Homo sapiens: one gene and its partners. The protein of the gene in region 1 purifies or fractionates together with the protein of each later gene. This does not show direct contact. Each region holds a gene or a part of one and is shown in the gene's direction. Other genes may lie near its edges. The genes, in order: TSSK4, WDR3 and ACACB.

Region 1 (4,316 bases):
TGTGTGAAAGAATTTGGATGGACTTGATCCTAAAGAGAATGGGGAGACACTGAATTGTTTCAAATGGAAATAAAATCAGATTTATGCTTTGGACTTGGGATGGACAGACTGGAGTGGAGCAGAAGGCTGGCGGGGGCCATCTGTTCGATGATGGAGGCGTGAACTAAGGGATTAGCAGTGGGCTCAGAAAACCATGAGAATATTATCAAAGAGAGAATCAGGAGGTATAAGAGATAGGATTTCGTGATAGATTGAATGTAGGGACTGAGGCAGGAGGGTCTGGGATGACATATGAGTGTCTAAATTAAGGGTGATTAGTGTACAACTCACAGAAAAGTCTGAGAGAAGAAAATAAGTTCAATTATTGATATGGTTAAGTTTGAGATGGATATGGTAAGTTCCATGCCTGGGGCAGACATGGCCACGTAATACTGGCTGCTCTATCTAAACTCCAGATATATGGGATGGAGATGAAATTAGGAGCAGTCAGCATAAATGTAGTATTGACACCATGGGTATGGACAAGATTAAGGGAGGATGTGAAGGTTTGAGAAAATAAAGCTTGTGATGTAACACTTGGGATATGATTAAGGGATGGATAGAGAAAGATATAACTTCAGTGAAGGCTGAGGAGTGACCAGAAGGATGTGGAGGAAAACTAGAGAGTTCTGGCTCATAGAAGATAAGGATGCATTTCAAGGTTAGATTTTCCTAGAACATGTTCAATACCTTACAATGGTAATACTTTCACACTCGTATTTCTCATGCTGCATTATAAGCTTTAGGATCATAGTGTCTCTATTGGCCTTATTGAACTAAGGGGGCTGCAATGGGCTCGGAAAGCCTTGAGTGTATCATTAAAGAGATAAGTAGGAGATAGCAGAGACAGGATTTGATGAAAGATTGTATGTAGGGATTGAGGAAGGAGGAAGGGTCTGGCATGACATTTGGGTGACATTTTATCCAAGTATTCAGCACAGTGTCTGGTACTTAGTAGGTACTCATATATCAATGAAAGGTCTGATCTTTAGGAGTTTCACCAGACTGTGGAAGGTGCCTCTGGGAATGAGTACGTTTCCAACTGCACTTCATTCTCTTTTTTTTTTTTTTTTTTTTTGAGACGGAGTCTCGCTCTGTCGCCCAGGCTGGAGTGCAGTGGCGCAATCTCGGCTCACTGCAAGCTCTGCCTCCCAGGTTCACGCCATTCTCCTGCCTCAGCCTCCCAAGTAGCTGGGACTACAGGCGCCCGCCACTACGCCCGGCTAATTTTTTGTATTTTTAGTAGAGACGGGGTTTCACCGTTTTAGCCGGGATGGTCTCGATCTCCTGACCTCGTGATCCGCCCGCCTCGGCCTCCCAAAGTGCTGGGATTACAGGCGTGAGCCACCGCGCCCGGCCGCACTTCATTCTCAAGTTTTGTGGCCAACGATGGATAGGAGGTGGATTGTGATGTATTCGGAACATGGGACCTTGAGGAGTTCCGTAACCAAAAGGAGAAAGTAACAACAGCCAGTGGAGACAAAAAGAACTGCTTCTCTTTCTTTCCCCCTCCAAGTTCCTAGTGGAGGGCTGAGTCCAGCATCCCAGACTCGTGTGACTATATAGGCAAGCATTTGGGGACCTACTTCACTTTGATACCCTAGCCTTCAGCAGCTCAAGGTGTTGGCCTTTGGATAGGAGGCTTCCAAGTAGTAAAGCTCCCTGCTCTCAGCAAGCCCAACACCATGGGGAAGGGAGATGTCTTAGAGGCAGCACCAACCACCACAGCCTACCATTCCCTCATGGATGAATATGGTTATGAGGTGGGCAAGGCCATTGGCCATGGCTCCTATGGGTCGGTATATGAGGCTTTCTACACAAAGCAGAAGGTTATGGTGGCAGTCAAGATCATCTCAAAGAAGAAGGCCTCTGATGACTATCTTAACAAGTTCCTGCCCCGTGAAATACAGGTTGGAAAGGGGGCTGGAAGAGGGAACTGGAGCTTGGTACTAAGCTGCTTGAGGTTTCTCAGAAGGGGTATGGCCAGGAGGGGTGGGGCCAGAAACCCCTAAACCAGAACTGAAATGTCTCACTAAGCAGCTAGGAAACTTTATGTAAGTTAAACCTCTTTCCCATCCACCCACTCACCTTCAGTCCCCAAAAAGTAAAGGCACAAAACATAGCATTTGCCCACAGGCCACCAGTTCTCTGGGGTTGAGGGGCTGATCCTATTGCAAAGTCCTAAGTCAGTAGCTGAGGGTAGGAGACGGCTGGGAGTGCAGTCAGGGTTCTCCCTTCCCAGGTTTGATGGGTCCTTCTTCTGGGGTCAGGTAATGAAAGTCTTGCGGCACAAGTACCTCATCAACTTCTATCGGGCCATTGAGAGCACATCTCGAGTATACATCATTCTGGAACTGGCTCAGGGTGGTGATGTCCTTGAATGGATCCAGCGCTACGGGGCCTGCTCTGAGCCCCTTGCTGGCAAGTGGTTCTCCCAGCTGACCCTGGGCATTGCCTACCTGCACAGCAAGAGCATCGTGCACCGGTGAGGGCGCTGCCACCCAGACTGGGGCCTTTGCCCTCAAGGGGGTTTTATGCACATCTCCCATTTCCTGTCCTTTTTTCCTCTTTCGAACTCCCTCCTCAATATCTAGCCTATTCATGCACTCTATTTTAATCATATGGTCAAGGATACTGATAAAGTACTCACTGTATGCAAAGCATTTTATGAAATACAATGGTGAGCTCCCGGTGGTCCTCAGATACCATCCTCTGTCTCTCTCCCTACTTTGGGCTCTGCTCACAACTCCATGGCTTTCCTTCCTCTCTACCTTGTGCCCTCATAATGGTTTCTACCTCCCACTTCCTCTGTCCTCATCTTTACCCTCTGACCCCTGGCCCTTCAGCTCCCAGTCTAAAACTAAGCCCTCTCCCCAGCCTGATGCCCAGCCTTTCTGCTGCTGGTAGGGACTTAAAGTTGGAGAACCTGTTGCTGGACAAGTGGGAGAATGTGAAGATATCAGACTTTGGCTTTGCCAAGATGGTGCCTTCTAACCAGCCTGTGGGTTGTAGCCCTTCTTACCGCCAAGTGAACTGCTTTTCCCACCTCAGCCAGACTTACTGTGGCAGCTTTGCTTACGCTTGCCCAGAGATCTTACGAGGCTTGCCCTACAACCCTTTCCTGTCTGACACCTGGAGCATGGGCGTCATCCTTTACACTCTAGTGGTCGCCCATCTGCCCTTTGATGACACCAATCTCAAAAAGCTGCTAAGAGAGACTCAGAAGGAGGTCACTTTCCCAGCTAACCATACCATCTCCCAGGAGTGCAAGGTACTGGCTACCTAAGGAGGGCTGAGCCTTCAGGGATGACCCACAGGGAGGGGTGAATATCCAACCTAGGTCACCCAACCTAGGCCTCCCAACCCTGGGGAAAGGCTCTTCCCACACCAGAGCCATCTCACACACTAGCTCCTGTCCTATAATAAACAGTATGGAAGGCATAAAGGGCCAACCACTAGGCTCCAAACCTTGCCTGATACACAGGTTCCAGCTTCTTTCTCTTTAGGCCAGAAGGGAAATATGGAAAGCATTCCTCCCAAGGAACTCTTCCCTTCCCCTCCAGGGAGTTAACTGCCTGGGTCTCCAAGATAAAATCAGAGCCACACCCACTTTGACCAGAGTGGTATGATGGGCTATCCTGCTTCTTTCTTAGGTCCAACTGCTCATTGCCTGTGTGGCACAATGGAGAAAAACTCAGGCAAGACCTCTCTCTCCCCTGCTCTAGAACCTGATCCTCCAGATGCTACGCCAAGCCACTAAGCGTGCCACCATTCTGGACATCATCAAGGATTCCTGGGTGCTCAAGTTCCAGCCTGAGCAACCCACCCATGAGATCAGGCTGCTTGAGGCCATGTGCCAGCTCCACAACACCACTAAACAGCACCAATCCTTGCAAATTACGACCTGAAAATGGCTGAGGGAGGGGGCTAAGAGAGGAGCAAAGCAGGAGGTCTTGGGCTAAAAATCTTTTTTACCAAAAATAAATCTAAGTCTGATTTAGTTTCATCAACTAGGGTCAAAGACATTCTTTTCTCAAGGCAATCTTATAGCAGGGAACACTGCTGGAGTAAGAGATAGATTTCTGCCCAGAGCCTGTAACCAATAATCTTGACACTGTGTTAAATCAATAGTGTAATTCATGATGTGGCTCTTAGGGGATGGGGTGCTCAGATTAACGCTCTATTTTGGGAAGCTTTATTATTCAACTCAACATATGCTCATTATTTTACATCTTTGTGCTGTTTAAATGCTCAAGTAGTGGGGTAAAAGCCCTGGT
Region 2 (3,305 bases), on another chromosome or scaffold:
CTAATACCTCAAATTTGAATGCTTGACAATCAAATTCCCATTTATTACTTACTGTACCTAATGTGGAGAAACTTTACGAGACATGAAGACTCCAAGTGTGGAGGAATAAATTGTAGAAGTTCTCTGGACCATTGGATTTTCTTTTCCCTGGGGAAAGTCTTTTGGTCGTTTATCATAATTGCTGCTTGTTAAAACAGGTAAAATACTTGTTAAGGGCTGTGCTTTTCATGACTAAATTATTTGCATATATAAACCTAAATAACATTTTAGAATCATAGAATTTCTTCTCTGGCAACATCAGTTCAATTTTAGGTAACTGTCTATCCAATGCAAATTCTGCATGCTCAGGCTTGGGGGTTAGAGGATGGATATGCCAATGTCTAGAATGTCTTCTGTTCTCCCTAGTGTACATTTCTCTCCTAACTGTGACTGGCTTTCTATAAGGAGCCATCAGTATGGTCAAGCCCCAAACCATATCTACATCAGATTTCATGCTTTTTTTTTTTTTTTTTGGTGGGGAGAGGGACAGATCATTGTTGACACTGTAAGTAAGTAGATAAAAGATCTGATAAGATTTTTTGCCCTTTATCTGTGTCTGACAGGTTCTCTCTAATCTATAAGCAGGGAAATAGAAAATTTATTATAAATACAAATGATTTCATTGCTATGATCAGCAGCAGTGACTCAGGTATTTGCATCTAATAACCTGTGTGGAGAGGGTAAGGGCACTTGATTTAGTTACCAGAGGAAAAAACTAGTTCTTTGGCTAGTTTCCTTCTGTCACAATGGAAAAACCCTGTCATTACTCAAAGGAAGAGAAAAAGGGAGGGGAGGAAGGTGAGAGGAAGGGAGAGAGACTTTCCCAGTGAGGACTTTCCTTTCCTATTTTATATTTTGCTCCATTGTACTTACTGCCATCATTGTTTATGGTTTACTTACTTTATGTATTGTCTGTCCTCCCACTGGAATGTAAGCTACATAAAGGCAGGCGTTTCGGCATCTTTGAAAGCATAAATGAACAAATGAACTAAACTTCATTTATTGACATCAGTGCTATCTGACACAAGTTCCTTTAACTTTCTCCTTCACCTCGGAATATCTGAATCATCAGCTATCTTCAGCTTCTCCCTTGCCAAGACTAACCCTTCAGCTCTGTTTTTTATTATTCTTTTGCCCTGTTTTGGATATTGCAGTTTCAATCACTTCTACTCATTCATATTTTTAATATATATCTTCTGCTCCACTCTCTTCAGCCTACAAACATGTAGGTCTACATTAAACTGAAAATCCTTCCTATATTCTGTTGCATCCTTGAGTAACATATTCTCTTGCTCTTTCCTTTAATAAATTTTCTTGAAAGAATATCCATAACTAATGTTTCTGCTTTCTTAATACAGTCATTCTTTACCTTTTGCAATTTAGTTTTTATCCCAACCAAATTTAACACTTTAAATCTGAATTTTCTTTGACATCTCAATAGCATCCGTCAATTGTGTCCGTCTTTTCCTTGAAATTCTTCCTAAGGCTTTTGAAGTATTTCACCATTTTCTAATTGCTGCTTTTGTCTCCACTGGCTCTTCTTCCTCCTGCTCCCTAAACCGACTCCAGATTTCTGTTCCTTGCCCATACATTCAGCCATCACCTCTGTGTAAACGATGCTTAAAATTATTATATCTCCAATTCTGACTTCTCAGTTGAGATCTAATATTACATATACATGATTCATTACCTCAGCCCAAAACTTTGAAGTTGAACTCGATGTCCTCTTTCTTCCATCCATCAATGGCTTCTACCTCAGATTTTGCAGTTTCCTTCCCCCACCATGTCTTTCATTCATGTCCCTCTTTTATGTTGACTGTTCCCCCACTCCCAGTTCTTGTCCTCACACATGGCCCATTCAGGTAGACTTCTAATGGTACTTTTACACATCCAGTTGTTCCCCTTTGACATGTCCTGCACAATAACCCTGGATTCATCTTAATAAAGATATGCTGATCATGTCACCCACAGGGTCAGGAATCTGCAGTGGTTCACTGCTGCTTAAATAATAAAATTCAAGCCAAGGATTTAAGATCTTTCATAACTTGACTCCAACCTACTTTCCCACTATATTCCTAATACTCAAGCTTTTGGCAAGTTGAACTCCCTGCCAATCATCCCAAACACCTGGAGCTTTCCTGTTGCCATGGTTTTGTTCATTATTTTTACTTAAAGTTCCCGTCAATCAAGTTTTCACATTCTATAAGATCCAGCTCAAAAATCAAATAAATAGAGAACTGTAACACAAGCAGCACACAATTCATGCCACTGGAGAAAGTACAAAATAGAAATAAAATGTGAAGACTTTATTTCTGCTACAAATTATATAATACCTTTTAAGACAGAGTCCAATTATCCATTTTTATATATGATAAACTATTTTATACAGTACCTTGGAGGTAATAGGTTCTTGATATCTATCTAATATCTGTTTGGCTGAAGACACTGATAAGGAGGAATGCATGCATAATTCAGTGAATACCCAACCTTTATAATAATAAGGTATTTCCTATCCTTCCATAAAATTATAATTTTTTTGTGATAGATACTTGCTGTTTTATTATTCTGTCTGATATTCCGTAGATAGCCAATAACATTTACATTTATTCAATCTGAAGTTACTGCACATATACTATGTGTCAGGTATTTTTTTAGATTTGGCTAGGTGCTTTCAAAGATGAATGAAGATGCTCTTTGTCTTAATAAATTTAACTCTGATTTTGAAGATAGAATTAATAAAGTAGAGATGCATTTTGACTTCCATGTTTTCCTCACTCGTGTAATTTCTGCACTATATATGATTACTCAAGTTGAACTTTAAAGGATATTTGCTTCCACAGGTAGGAACAGAACCTCATGCTCTGTCATAATCTCGATATTGTGAGAGATGTGTGCTGATCCCTTGGCCCCATCCTCTCCAACAGCTGTGGCAAATAACTCTATATTCAGTTCTGTCTGCATACCAGCTGCCACCTATAAGACACAAGGTAGCTTTAGGACCAGACAACTCTGAGTTCAAACCTTGCTTTTAATAATATGAATTTGAGCAAGTTACTTAAACTCTCTTACCTTTGGTTTCTTCATCTATAAATTTGGCACTAACAAATGGTAGTTATTATAAGCATTTAGCGGAATTACTTCATAATGAAGGTAGAATTCCATTAAGTAAAGGGGAGCCAGGGTAAATTGTTGAAGGGGCAAACCAGGTGCTATTTAGGAAAAAGCATAAGGAAGCTAAATGCCAGGTTATTGGAAGTGGAACTGAA
Region 3 (3,652 bases), on another chromosome or scaffold:
TCTCTACTAAAAATACAAAAAATTAGCCGGGCGTGGTGGCAGGTGCCTGTAGTCCCAGCTACTCAGGAGGTTGAGGCAGGAGAATGGCATGAACCCAGGAGGCGGAGCTTGCAGTGAGCCGAGATCGCACCACTGCACTCCAGCCTGGGCGACAGAGCGAGACTCCATCTCAAAAAAAAAAAAAAAATTTTTAAACATACAAGTTGAAAGAATTTTACAGTGGGTGCCCATATACCCCTGATTAGATTCTGCCATTACCATTTTTCTGTATTTGTCACCTGTAAATTGCAGATATCAGTGTCTTTATCCTTGAATACTTCAACATGCATGTCATTAATTAGAGCTCCAGAGTTTTTTTTGTTTGTTTGTTTATTTGTTTGTTTTAAGAGACAGGGTCTTAGGCCGAGCGTGGTGGCTCACATCTGTAATTCCAGCACTTTGGGAGGCCGAGGCGGGCAGATCACTTGAGGCCAGGAGTTTAAGACCAGCCTGGCCAACATGGAAAAACGCCCATCTCTACAAAAAATACAAAAATTAGCCAGGCCTGGTGGCATGCACCTGTAATCCCAACTACTCAGGAGGCTGAGGCAGGAGAATCTTTTGAACCTGGGAGGCAGAGGTTGCATTGAGCCAAGATTGTGCCACTACACTCCAGCCTGGGTGACAGAGTGAGACCCTGTCTCAAAAAAAAGAAAAGAGACAGGGTCTCACTCTGTCGCCCAGGCTGGAGTGCAGTGGCACAATCTCGGCTCACTTGCAGCCTCTACTACCCTGGGCTCCCATCTCAGCCTCCAGAGTAGCTGGGACTACAGGGACACACCACCACGCCTGGCTAATTTTTTTTTTTTAATTTTTATTTTTTAGGTAACAGAGTTTGCCATGTTGCTCGGGCTGGTCTTGAACTCCTGGGCTCAAGCGATCCTCCTGCCTTGGCCTCCCAAAGTGCTGGGATTATAGATGTGAGCCACTGCATCTGGCCCCCAGACTATTTTCAAGCAATTCTCACAGCTAGATGTCACACTGTTTTGCCCGTAATACTTTAGCACACATTTCTAAAAGACACAAGTTTTTTTTTTAAACCATTGCCATAATTATATCTATCTAACAGAATGAATGATAATTCCTTAATCTAGTACCTAGTTCATGCTGACTGTCCTCCAGGTGGCTCAAAGATGTCTTTGAATGGTTTTATTCAAATCAGGACCCACAGGGTTTCTCTTAAGTCTCCTCATCTGTAATAATCAGCAACTCCCTTTATTAAATGCCAGTTACTTATTGAAACTGGGTCATTTGTCCCGTAGAATTTTCCATATTCTGGATTTGGCTGATTGCATCTTCCAAGTGTCATCTAACATGTTCTTCTATACCTATAAATAAGTACTAGGTCAAGAGGCTTGAATCAATTCAGGTGCAGATCCTTAGCAGGAATACTTTGAAGGTGTTTTTCTGTTTTCTCTTGCATCACGTCAAGAACATAAAGTTCAGTTACCCCACTTTTAGTGATTTTTGTTCATTAGTGAGTTTAGGGTATCAGTCTGACCTCCGTCGTAAAGTTCCCTATCACCCTCTTGCCGAATGACTTTACTGCCTGCTGATGAGCAAAGCCCAGATTATTGTTTCGTTACTATAGTGATTTTCTACTTCCGTCAATCTTTCTGTGCTTATTAGCTCTTGTTGTTTTTTGTTGTTGTTGTTGTTGTTTCTGGTTTTGTTTGTTTGTTTTGAGACAGGGTCTCTCTCTGTCATCCAGGCTAGAGTGCAGTGGCACAATCTTGGCTCACTGCAACCTCAACTTGTCAGGTTCAAGCGATCCTCCTGCCTCAGCCTCTTGAGTAGCTGGGACCACAGGCGCTCGCCACCATGCCTGGCTAATTTTATGTATTTTTGATAGAGATGAGGTTTCACTACATTGCCCAGGCTGGTCTCAAACCTGAGCTCAAACGATACTCCCGCCTTGGCCTTCCAAAGAGCTGGCATTACAGGCATGAGCCACTGTGCCCGGCCCAACTCTCATTGTTCTCTACCACACGACTTTCCTCAAGCATTTGCTTACCCTGAAATACAGTCCCTGAAAGGCAGAGTACATGGTTGATTATGTCCTTTTTTTGTGTGTGGGCGGGGCTAAGTCTATTTTCAGAGTAATGAGTAGCCCTAGCAGCCATGAAAAGTATCAACGAGTTGTTTTTGTTTTGAGGGGTGTTACGACCTTATGGTTTTTAAAGATATTTTGATGTGTTTCAATCCACTGCAGTCATCATCCGTTTGCAGCCTCTCTTTGGTAGCCCATGCCCCTGGAGGGTCCTTGTTTTCAGGCAAGAAGATATCTCAGCTCATCATGTACATTTCTGCCCCAGCCCTAGAATCAGACATTTCTCCAAGGAGTCCTGGTTCCTTTCAGTGGGAAATGTTCTTAGAGACATTATAATCTGGACACTAACGATGTCTGTGGAATTTTTACAAGATCGCCTTGGCTTCTCTGTGCATGATGAACTGGAGGGACAAGACCAGGCCAGAGAGACAGGTCAAGAGACTTTCGCAGTGGCCCAAGTGAGATATAACAGTGGCTTGAACTTGATCTTAGGTAAATCACTTAGCGCAATGCTTGGTACATGATGGAGAGCACCATAAATGGTAGCACACTCTTTCATCAATGACTTGATCTGTATTAGTTTACTTAAACTCCAAAACTGTATGAGGAAGACTTCCTTATCATTGTATACATGAGAAAACCCAAGCTCAGAGAGGTGAGGAAACTTGTTCAAGGTCACACAGGAAATGAACAGCAGAAATAGAACCTGAATCCAGATCTCGTGCTCTAACCAATGCACTGTGTCGCCCAGAGGGTTCTTGGTTTCACACTCAAAAATGACTTACATTTTGGTGCAAAACCTGATCCATCACGAGTTCATGGCGATTCTCCTGGTTGTGCCCTCAGGTTTGTGATTTTATTTGCTTCCCAGTGAGATCATAAACCCACGAGGGCAGGGCTGGGCCATTCCTGCCTGTTTGCTCCATGTCTCCAGCAGCGTGTACCACACCTGGCAGGTGCTCAGGAAATACCTGCTGATGAATGAGTGAATGGCTGAAGAAGGCAAATTCACAGCACAGCAGGGGGAGAAGCGAAGAAGGATAGGATTCCACCTGTGAAGATGGCAAGGACCAGAACTTAGGAGAGCTGAACAGTGGACTTCAGCAATTTCTGCAGGGATAATTCAAGTGAGAGGCTAGCCAGACAGATCAGACTGATAGGCCTTTAGACTGCGGAACATGTTTTCCATTGGAGGTGGAAAAACGGCTCCTCTTACCTTCCTTCAAGGCAGGGGCCGATCTGGAACCATTCAGGCCAGTTTTGCTTGGGATGGCAGATTCACCACATCAAGAATTTGATCTGAACCAGGCATGGTGGCTTATGCCTGTAATCCCAGAACTTTGGGAGGAAGAGGTGGGAAGATTGCTTGAGGACAGGAGTTCAAGACCAGCCTGGGCAACACAGAAAGACCCTATCTCTACAAAATATAAAAAAGATTAGCTAGATGTCGTGGTGTGCACCTGTAGTCCCAGCTATTTGGGAGGCTAAAACAGGAGGATTGCTTGATCCCAGGAGTTCGAGGCTGCTGTCAGTTACAATTGTGCCACTGGACTCCAGCCTGGG

What was found.
Region 2: the proteins of TSSK4 (region 1) and WDR3 purify together in Homo sapiens (affinity purification with mass spectrometry; one large-scale study listed by BioGRID and IntAct). This does not show direct contact.
Region 3: the proteins of TSSK4 (region 1) and ACACB purify together in Homo sapiens (affinity purification with mass spectrometry; one large-scale study listed by BioGRID and IntAct). This does not show direct contact.

Annotation. Positions count from the first base shown.
Region 1 is NC_000014.9:24,204,200-24,208,515, forward strand, and holds TSSK4 (testis-specific serine/threonine-protein kinase 4), read left to right. Parts: upstream 1-1,496; 5' UTR 1,497-1,724; coding exon 1,725-1,949; intron 1,950-2,309; coding exon 2,310-2,524; intron 2,525-2,916; coding exon 2,917-3,310; intron 3,311-3,692; coding exon of another isoform or gene 3,693-3,764; coding exon 3,765-3,947; 3' UTR 3,948-4,049; downstream 4,050-4,316. UniProt on the Homo sapiens protein: Serine/threonine kinase which is involved in male germ cell development and in mature sperm function. May be involved in the Cre/Creb signaling pathway. Phosphorylates CREB1 on 'Ser-133' in vitro and can stimulate Cre/Creb pathway in cells.
Region 2 is NC_000001.11:117,963,742-117,967,046, forward strand, and holds the end of WDR3 (WD repeat-containing protein 3), read left to right. Parts: 3' UTR 1-57; coding exon of another isoform or gene 58-197; 3' UTR 198-2,802; downstream 2,803-3,305. Other genes in the region: SPAG17 (sperm-associated antigen 17), read right to left, coding at 58-197, 2,868-3,012. UniProt on the Homo sapiens protein: Part of the small subunit (SSU) processome, first precursor of the small eukaryotic ribosomal subunit.
Region 3 is NC_000012.12:109,123,010-109,126,661, forward strand, and holds part of ACACB (acetyl-CoA carboxylase 2), read left to right. Parts: intron 1-1,136; exon of another isoform or gene 1,137-3,652. UniProt on the Homo sapiens protein: Mitochondrial enzyme that catalyzes the carboxylation of acetyl-CoA to malonyl-CoA and plays a central role in fatty acid metabolism.